2 separate regions of the Homo sapiens genome follow, and region 2 is linked to region 1. Evidence: fine-mapped expression QTL. A gene starts in region 1. The other region holds a variant in brackets. All regions are shown on one strand. Distances are from middle to middle.

Region 1 (5,530 bases):
GTGATAAACTGATTTCCTAACTTCACTCAAATTTGACACAAGGCATCCCATATCAAGCTGTCAGCATGACAAATACACAAACCATACAGAGGCATGGGTTACGTACTACCTTTGGAGAAAAATTCAGAATGAACAAAAACTTGGATTGGGATTGTATGTATTTTAAAGTTAGTATGTGCAAACCTACAAGAAAAAAAAAGTTACTTTTTAAAACAAGCTTCAGAAAAAGAAAAAGTAACTTGTCACTAACACAACATGCTCACTTCCGAAGAACAAGTAGAAAAGTGGAGGGTGGAGGAAACAAGAATGCATGTGATCCTCCTAGGCTATTACCACTTCTTTCCCAAGTAAATTTATCTCCTAAAAGGAGAGAATATGCCGAACCATCATTCTATGTATATCTGGAAAATACCCAGTGGTGTGATGGGCTTCTATGAACAGTATGCCTACAAGGACGGGGCACGTGGGCTAAGGGAACAAGCAGCATCACGTAGAGACAGCTGTCTCTGGCAATGGCTCCAGTGCCCTCTTCTTCAGGGTTTCCACCCTAGCACCACTCACAGCATTAACTTCTCTTACTTTGGGAAGAAAAAAGTAGACTCTTTTCCAACAGAACAGATAGGAATCAAATAACAAAGATTCCAAAAGATCCTTCTAGAGAGTTCTGCTTTATTGAAGGATACACAAGGACAGTCAGCAACAACAACAGCAAAAGCATTTCACTACCAGGAAATAGTTACTGTATCAAGAGACTAAACTTTCTATATAGAAAGGAGAAGGAAAAGAGGGGGAAAAAACCCCACAAAACAACAAAAAAAGTTGGGGATGGGGAAGAATGGGAAAAAAAGAAGAATGTTGAAGATGAATGAAAAAAAGTGTGTGTAATGGAAAGGAGTGAAGGATCAGGAACTAAATTTTACTCAAGTATATGCATCTGAGAGCTTAGAGAGACCTCAGAAGGAAAACTGCCAGGTCGAGCCTCCTCCCCTTAGGTTAGCAGTGTTGATCAGCCTCTGTCATCCACCAAACCAAAGCCTAGCTTTGAGTTATTCTCATCTAATCTAATTGCAGACATCACTGAAGGTCCTTGACGCAAACAAGAAAAACCTCTTCTCATTTAGTCTCTATTAATGATTACAGAAAAAAAATAAACAGGTGAACTCACTGCTAATTACACTAAGCAAAGGGAAGAGATTCTGGGTACGCCCAATAGGGGCACCTTTGGCTGTGCTGTGTGACCTCCTCGAAGTTACTATGTATGCCAACTGATCCTCCCACACACACCCATTCTTAAAACACCCGGCGCATTACCATACTACAACCTTTTAAAAACTATCCCACAAAAGAAAGAAAACGTCTCTCACCCACTCTAAGGGATACTGGGAACATTTCTGCTTTCAAACACACTGCCTTTAAAATTTTAAAGACCTAATTCATTTTCTGTGATAAAAAGTTTACTTCCAAAAAAGTGGCTAGCACAGTTTCCAGCATATAGTAGGCTTGTATTAAATACTAGTTGCACACATGACAAAAATGATCGTTCTGAATAATTTTCACAGCTGTAGAACAGTTACAACCTTCTCAAGATATGAAGCTTTTACCTCCACAAACTAGAAAAAAAGGGCGGGGACTATTTTAAAGCCAATCTGTAAGGCACGGCAAGAAAGTTGCAAATATTTGCATTCATTTAACGGTAATTTCTGAGTCTGTAAAACAAAAGGAAATGCTCAACGAGAAAATAAAAAACCTTGTGCAGAGCTTTGAAACTGTGGAGTTGGGACTCTTGACACCCTGGTGTGCACGCAGATGACTCTGAAGGTGACAAAGGGAAAGTGTTTGCACTGAGGACTTTGATAAAGGATCTTTCCGCTGTGGAATTCCAGGTTACTGCTGGCATTCTTTTGAAACCTTCCAACCTAGCTGCGAGCCAAGGGAGTACGGTTCCTTCGCCAAAATTCAAGAGATTCCCAGAGAACCCCACGGCGGGGCGTCTGCGCCTTCCTCCCGCTGACATCAAGAGCACCGTGCCTTTCAAGTCACCCAAAATCTCAGTCTTTGTAGCCTTCCTTGAAGCGAAAGGGCAGCCACAGCTCTTAACCAACCCCAAGAGAGGGCCGTGTCGTCCTGCACGGCGACACGGTCCCGTGAGAGAACTGCTTTGGGAAATACTCCCGCTCCGCGCTGGCCTCAGGAAAGGGCCGTGACCCCCTCCCTAAGACGGGTCCAGACACCGCCCTCCAGCCGCGCAGACAAAGGACCGGCCCCCGGCGCGCCCCCGGCCCGGCACGGCCACTCACCGCTCAGATAGTTGGTCCACTTGTACAGCACCCCCTCCATGGCGCCCGCGGCCACTCGGCCCACGCCCGCCGGCCCCCTCACTGCCCCAGGCCCCAAGAGGCGAGGAGCACCAGCAGCAGGGCCATCGCCTGGCGCTGCCCAGACGCCCACTCCCGGCGCCCGGGCCCGGTGTGGGGACGCCCGGCCCGCCTCACATCCTCGGCCCGGGGGCGGGGTCACTGCGGCGGCCTCGGCGCTTGAAGCCCAGCCAGCCGGTGAACCCGTGGGGCGAAGCCGGCACGCTGTTCACAAGGAGGCCCGGGTCCGGGCCCTACGTGGGTCGGAGGGGCAGCCGAAGCCTCCAAAGTGCGGCGAACGAGCTGCCGGTCGCAGGCGGCGCCACGGCGCACCACCTGAACCCTCGACTCGCCGGGCCCGGGACGCGCTCGCGCATGCCCAGGGCGCCGCTCGCGCGCCCCTTCCCAAAATCCACTCCGGGATTTCGCGGCAGCGGCGGCGGGGCGGAGTTTGCGGGAACGGCCCGCAGGGAAATTGAGTCCCGAGACGCGGACTGCGGACTAGGCGACGGGAGGAGGGAGGCCCCTGAGACAAGTGTGGAGCGCAGTTCTGACTGTAAATGGTGCCCGCCGTTTGAGGGTCTACGTGACCTCTCACGATACCTCCTGAGTTCTAGTCCCTATTCTTGTTCCAAAGCTGCCTAATTGATCTCACACACTTGAGGTAACCAATAACAGGGCGTAAAGAGATTATTGGAATTTCAGGGTAGAATACTATGAGGCCAGTGTAAACAGATGTTGTCCAGACTCTAAGGTCTCACTATGGAAGTGTTGATCTACTGACCCGGAGCACTGACATCACCTAAGAGCTTGTTAGAAATGCAGAATCTTGCACCCACCCCAGACCTCCAGATCAAAATCTGCATTTTAAACAAGATCTTCAGGGGGATTCCTATGCACATAGAGTGCGGATATGCACTGTGTTAAGGTTATTAGACCAGAAAAAATGTTAACTACAGATTAAGTGGAAAGAGGAGGTGAGAAAAGACTACAATACGATTTAAATCGCTTTAAGTATATGTCACAGAAGCATGCACCAAAATATTAAGAGGATTGTTTGCGGCTGGTGGTGGTATCGGCGAGCTTTCTTTTTCTTTAAAGTTGCCTGATTTAGTAAATAAAAATGCAAAACCATTATTCGTTATGTATCTGAAATTCCAACTTGATTCGACTCCCCAATATTATCTGGAAATCTTACTTTAGTGCTTTCCAATTTCTTCCAAAATGACTTCAATGAACATGCATTACTTTTGAACTTAGGCAAAAAATGTAAAACTAGAAAATGTAAACTACGATGAGGCTGTGTAATTCGTAACCATGATTACCATTTCTTCTTTAAAGCGGAAGTCTGCAAGTCGAAACTCATTATTTACCCTGTAAGGTAACTTAAGGGATAAATTATTAGCAGCCATAACATGACGTGGTGCTGTGGAATGAATCAGACCTGGTTTGAAGGCAGAGCTCATTTGCTTCGGGGCCAAACAACCTTAAGCAGGACAGTTAATATCTCCTGGTGTAAATTTACTTCTCTTTTAAATGGGAAAAAAGAACCTGCCTTACTGGGTGTAGTGAGGTTCATGCAACGGGAACGCGCTTTGTGAACCCTCAAGCAGTATGTCAGTCTTTACAGTTTATAAGCAATAGCAAAATCCTAGGATTGTGGCATCTTGGGGGGCCGCTCTCCAACGGCGAGAGTAAACGAGTCTTTCCTGGAACCCCGAAGATTTCATAGGGCCCCGGGACTCTTCCTACGTCTCTCAGCAGGGTTCTTCACAGAGATAAATCAGCCGGAGGAGTTTCCGGTTGGCTCTGCGCCCCGCCCCTCTCCCAAAATCCACGCTGGTTGAATGCTGAAATCCACCGGGCTCTAGGACCACAAGGGATGATCCGCCGCTTGGCAGCTGCCCGGCTCTACCGGGCTGTAAATTCCATCGTTGCAGCGTCATTGGCTTGAGAGCTGCCTGAAGGACAGCACCAATAGCCAATGGGAGGCTGCTATTCCCAGGCGGCCGCGTTATAAGAGCCAGTCAGGCCGGCATTTGGGCTTAACTCTTTAAAGGTAGGTTCGTGACCCTTGAGAAAAGAGTTGGTGGTAAATGTGCCACGTCTTCTAAGAAGGGGGAGTCCTGAACTTGTCTGAAGCCCTTGTCCGTAAGCCTTGAACTACGTTCTTAAATCTATGAAGTCGAGGGACCTTTCGCTGCTTTTGTAGGGACTTCTTTCCTTGCTTCAGCAACATGAGGCTTTTCTTGTGGAACGCGGTCTTGACTCTGTTCGTCACTTCTTTGATTGGGGCTTTGATCCCTGAACCAGAAGTGAAAATTGAAGTTCTCCAGAAGCCATTCATCTGCCATCGCAAGACCAAAGGAGGGGATTTGATGTTGGTCCACTATGAAGGCTACTTAGAAAAGGACGGCTCCTTATTTCACTCCACGTAAGTAATTATGCCCCGCAGGTAAAATAGTAATTAAGAATCCACTCACTTATGCCAGCTCTCCAGCAGGAAAGGTGGCCTGTACCTGGTTTTGCCTCTTTTACAAAACCGAAATATCTTATTTCCTTCTTTGGGAAAGGAAATTGTTTAAAGCCAGTTTTATATAGCGAGCGAGGCCTTTGAAGGTCTTGTTGGAAACATGTGGTCTGGAAAAGGCTGTTAATTTTTTTTATTATACAAATTAGAACTAGAATCTTTGAAATATTGCAGAAATATATCTGGGTGTATAATTGGCCAATAAGTAGAAAAAGCCCAAAAGAATTCTCATATCTCAAACTCCATTTCTTAAAGAAAATGACTTGATTCCATTTTTAATGTGGTGTAGGTGATGTTCACCTAAAACTTTTCACAGCGACTTCAAAAGCAAACTACACTATCACTTATTTGCCTGTTGAAGGATATACTAATGCCGTTTCACTGACCTACTTCTTTTGTTCTGACGAATGGTATTTTGGTCAAGGCACAGGACCATGATTTCAGTCATTTGCTTCTTTCTAGAGAGTCAGACTTCATTGATGAGGTGGGTGTGGTTTTGGAAGTCTAGGTGAAGGATTTTCAGGTGGTTACACTATCATTTCTGTTCTATAAACGAAGAAATTGGAACATGGAAATGGTTTACAGCCTAATGATTTTCAATTAGGCATCGGTTCCATTCATTCCATTATGACAGTATTTAGTGAGC
Region 2 (5,000 bases), 65 kb after region 1:
CCATGAGCATTAAAAAAGTTGTTTTACACCACTAAATTTTGGGGTAATTTGTTAAGTAGCCATACTAACTTCAAAAATCACACAAAGCCATTTATAAACATGTCTGAAATAAATATTTCAAAAAAATTTGTTTTCTTTTTTGGAGGATAGGCTACATAACTCTTACTTTACTCTCATGGTTACAATTATTTTAAGGACGAGGCTAGATTCCTTTTGCTAGTTAACCTATGGTATATGATTACTCAGATATATTTAGGTTAAATCCTGTCCCCTTCCATACATAAGTATAGTGTGATATATACCATAATTAGCCTCTAAGGCAGCTCTGACCTCTCTTCTGAGTTCCATACCTGTGTTTTGAGCTGCCTCTTTGCGTTCCCACTTGCATATTCTGCAGGTGAAATAACCTCACGGGTAAGAAAGCAAATTCATTTCCCCCAGCTCATATATGTTGCTGTAACAACATATGCATTGTCGGCCACGTAGTTTATACTAGAAGCCCACGGGAAACGTCGACCCTCACTTCCCCCATCCCCAATGCACAGGGACAGCTGTCACTGAGTCCCGCTGCCCCCTCTCTTGTTTGTCCATCTCCTCCCCGCTGCCCCTGACTCGTTCAGACTGAGTCCATCTCTTTTCTGCTACAATCTTCTCATTTGTCCCTGGGTCTCTTTCTCCTGGGTTCTTCTCCCTACAGGGTTACCAGAATTTTCTTCCCAGAACATAGATAGCTCTACCACTCCCTTGCTGAAAAGTGTTTCGTTTTGTTTACAGGATGAGAGTCCAAGCTGATTTGTATGCCATTCAGAACTCTTCCCAACTGGCACCCTGCTCACTTTTCCTTTCTTTTATTCTCTTTCATTCTTTTCTATTTTAAATTGATAGACTATTTTTAGAGCAGTTTTATGTTTACAGAAAAATGAACAGAAGGCACAGAGAGTTCCCAAACAGCCCCTTACCCTGCCCTCTAGTTTACCCTGCTAGTAACGTCTGGCATCAATGTGGTACATTCGCTACAACTGATGAGCCAATATTGACACAGTATATATATATATATATATTTTGTTTTTTGAGACAGAGTCTAGCTTTGTCGCCCAGGCTAGAGTGCAGTTGCACAATCTTGGCTCACTGCAACCTCCAGCTCTCGGGTTCAAGCGATGCTCTTGCTTCAGCCTCCCAAGTAGCTGGGATTACAGGTGCCCACCATCATGCCTGGCTAATTTTTGTATTTTTAGTAGAAACGGGGTTTCATCATGTTGGCCAGCCTGTCTTGAACTCCTGACCTCAAGTGATCCACCCGCCTCGGCCTCCCAAAGTGCTGGGATTATGGATGTGAGCCACCGAGCCCGGCCTGATACAGTATTATTAACTAAAGTTCATAGTTTATACTCTGTGTTGGATATCCTGTGGGTATACCTATATGTATAATGACAAGCCATTGTAGTATCATAGAGAATACTTTTACTGTCCTAGAGGTTCTGTGCTCCACCTATTCACCCACCCACCCTAGCCCCCAGAAATCACTGATCCTATTGTGTCCATACTTTTGCCTTTCGTAAAATGTCACATAGTTGGAATCATTCAGTGTGTAGCCTTTTCAGATTGGCTTTTTTAAACTTAGTAATGTGCATTTAAGGTTTCTTCCTGTCTTTTCCAAGCTTGATGACACATTTCTTTTTATCACTGAACAATATTCCATTTTCTGGATATACCAGGTTATTTATCCATTCACCCACTGAAGGACATCTTAGTTGATTCTAAAGTTTGGCAGTTATGAACATAGCTGCTATAAATATTTGTGTGCAGTCTTTTGTGTAGACATAAGTTTTTAACTCATTTGGCTAAAGACATTTTAAAATGTAATTTTTCATTTTGAATAGGTAATCATATATTTATGTGGTTCAAAGATTGAATGATATTTAAAAGGTTCACAGTAAGAAGTCTTCCTCCCTTGTCTCCATCCTGTATAACTCTTATTAATTTCATGCATATCCTTCAAGTATTTTATGCAAATCCAAAAAAACTGAATATCAGGCCTTATTTTCTATTGTTTTGTGTGAATGCAGCACATTATGTATACTACTATTAAACATGATTTTTTAATATATAACTTTGAACTTACAGAAAAGTTCTGCACTTTCCTATTTTCACTTAACATTTTCTAAAGATTTTTCTATAGAGATTGTCCTTATTTTTTTCTTACAGCTACATAGTAATCCATTGTGGAGATGTACCATAGTTCATTTAATTAGTGCTCTATTGGTAGATGCTTGGACTCCTTCCAGTATTTTGCTAGTCCAGAAAGTGCAGCTGTGGAGAACCTTGTACATAAGTCATTTTGTGCATGTGTAGATACCATTGGATGTACTTCCAAATGTAGCATCATTGGGTCATAGGGTAAAGCTTTTATAAGAATTGACCTCCGTAAGGGTTATACAATTTCCTGCTTACTTTTCTATTCTCATTGTTAGCTCTGCCCTCTCAGCTTGTACCCTAGGCCCCAGCTACACTGAACTGCTTGCCTTTTCTTGAACAAATAACACACTTGCATTTTTCTGTGCTTTTGCTCTTTCTGTCCTTTGCTGAGAAGATCCTTCTTCTCCCCTCCTCTCATCTACTTGGTAGACTCCTGTTTATCCTTCCAGGCCTCAACACCAATATCCACTCCTCCCTTTAGCCTGATACTCCTCTATGCATGTCAATTGAAATTTACAACCACCTGAAACTAGGAGGATGAGTTCTGGCCCAGGAGAGAGGGGTCCTAGGTTCGTGTTTTGCCTCTCCCTTTATAGTGTCTTGGGCCTTTGAGCCTCTCTGAAACTCAGTTTCTTTATTTGCCAGATAGAGATCATAATACCCCCTCTGCCTGCATTACAGGCTTTAGTGAGACACACGTGAGCTGATGCATGAAAGCACTTTGTAAAGCTTTAAGGAGAACATTGTGAAGAAGGATTTTTTTTTTTTTTTTAAAGAATTGACTAATGAGAATTGCTGTGACTCCGGGTCTCAGTTCCAAAACT[G/A]TCTTTGGCACATCACATACTACTGAATCTGCTTTTCAAACTTACTCTTACCCCTTTAGTTCCCTTACAGTTACATCTGTCTCCATCTCCTATACTTGTACCAAGTACAGAATGATGGGTTCTTTCCATATTTAGGTCTAGGAGCCACAATTACTATCATGTAACTTTTATACAAGCAACTATTAAAATACAGACTTTTTTAAACTATGAAGAGTAAGAACTTTTCATAAAAACCCATCTATTCCTCAGCCATTTCATGACATTTTATGTTATTTTATGTTATTTTATTTTATTTTATTTTATGTTTGAGACAGTCTCACTCTGTCACCCAGGCTGGAGTGCAGTGGCATGATCTCAGCTCACTGCAACCTCTGCCTCCTGGGTTCAAGCAATTCTCCTGCCTCAGCCTCCCAAGTAGCTGGGATTACAGGCATGTGCCACCATAGCCGGCTAATTTTCGTATTTTTGGTAGAGACAGAGTTTCATCATGTTGGCCAGGCTGGTCTCAAAACTCCTGAGCTCAAGTGATCCACCCACCTTGGCTTCCCAAAGTGTTGGGATTACAGGCGTGAGCCACCATGCCTGGCCCATTTCATGACATTTTAAACATGTGTCCTGAGGTTTCCCTAGAAACCTCATACTTGAGTGTTGAGGTCCCAGGAAATCATTTTCTGAGAATATAACCCTCTATTATATAATTTATTATATAATAATTTAATTATATATAAACAATTATCTAATAATTATATAATTTAATTACATATACATAATTATATTTAATAATTGTATAATTTAATTATATGTAAATAATTATATTATTTAATAATTACAGTGTTTAATAATTATATGAAACTAATTATATACTAGGTGGTTATATTCTCAGAAAATGATTTCCTGGGACCTCAACACTCTCAAGTATGAGGTTTCTAGGGCAACCTCTGGACACATGCAAAAACCATGGAAAAAGTCGTGTGGACTCCTCATTCATCCACTCACCCACCTGCCAACTGATCCCCCTTTCCAGGCGGTTCTCCCTTCAACTTGTCCACTTAGCCTCTCTCCATCTTCTTGTCAGTCAGTCCCATCCAGCCATCATCTCCATATGTCAAGTTCACTGTATTTAAGACTAGAAGAGTAAGAAATAAGATCCTCCAGTGGGGGGGTCAGCCCCCCGCCCGGCCAGCCGCTCCGTCCGGGAGGGAGGTGGGGGGGTCAGCCCCCTGCCCGGCCAGCCGCCCCATCCGGGAGGTGAGGGGCGCCTCTGCCCGGCGGCCCCTACTGGGAAGTGAAGAGCCCCTCTGCCCGGCCAGCCGCCCCGTCCGGGAGGTGAGGGGCGCCTCTGCCCGGCCGCCCCTACTGGGAAGTGAGGAGCCCCTCTGCCCGGCCACCACCCCGTCTGGGAGGTGTGCCCAACAGCTCACTGAGAACGGGCCAGGATGACAATGGCGGCTTTGTGGAATAGAAAGGCGGGAAAGGTGGGGAAAAGATTGAGAAATCGGATGGTTGCCGTGTCTGTGTAGAAAGAAGTAGACATGGGAGACTTTTCATTTTGTTCTGCACTAAGAAAAATTCTTCTGCCTTGGGATCCTGTTGATCTGTGACCTTACCCCCAACCCTGTGCTCTCTGAAACATGTGCTGTGTCCACTCAGGGTTAAATGGATTAAGGGCGGTGCAAGATGTGCTTTGTTAAACAGATGCTTGAAGGCAGCATGCTCGTTAAGAGTCATCACCACTCCCTAATCTCAAGTAATCAGGGACACAAACACCGCGGAAGGCCGCAGGGTCCTCTGCCTAGGAAAACCAGAGACCTTTGTTCACTTGTTTATCTGCTGACCTTCCCTCCACTATTGTCCCATGACCCTGCCAAATCCCCCTCTGTGAGAAACACCCAAGAATTATCAATAAAAAAATAAATTAAAAAAAAAAAAAAAAAGAAATAAGATCCTCCAGCACAGAGTTCCTCAGTTTCCAAAATTACA

Direction of the effects. Alleles are on the strand shown, and positions count from the first base shown. SD is a standard deviation of normalised expression in the study named.
As copies of A replace G in region 2, the expression in naive CD8 T cells of the gene that starts at base 2,688 in region 1 goes up (large effect, 1.0 SD a copy in Schmiedel 2018).

The links. PIP is the estimated chance that this variant, and not a neighbour inherited with it, causes the effect. A credible set is the group of variants that fine-mapping cannot tell apart.
Region 2: its variant is the best candidate, but not a certain one, in a credible set for the expression of PLEKHA8 in naive CD8 T cells (Schmiedel 2018, PIP 0.57).

What each region holds. Positions count from the first base shown.
Region 1 is chr7:30,025,570-30,031,099 of GRCh38, reverse strand. It overlaps PLEKHA8 (pleckstrin homology domain containing A8), which reads right to left and starts at 2,688. Exons shown (of 14, transcript NM_001197026.2): 1 at 2,298-2,688. The coding sequence starts at 2,337. It overlaps FKBP14 (FKBP prolyl isomerase 14), which reads left to right and starts at 4,398. Exons shown (of 4, transcript NM_017946.4): 1 at 4,398-4,788. The coding sequence starts at 4,592. FKBP14-AS1 (FKBP14 antisense RNA 1) reads right to left here. Exons shown (of 3, transcript NR_187577.1): 3 at 3,859-5,530. RefSeq lists enhancers at 1,967-2,086, 3,993-4,142 and a silencer at 2,247-2,576.
Region 2 is chr7:29,961,013-29,966,012 of GRCh38, reverse strand. All of the region lies in intron 2 of SCRN1 (secernin 1), which reads left to right. Among named protein-coding and RNA genes, the nearest start is that of FKBP14-AS1, 25 kb to the left of the region's middle. RefSeq lists an enhancer at 4,559-5,000. The variant G/A (reference allele first, on the strand shown) is at 3,021.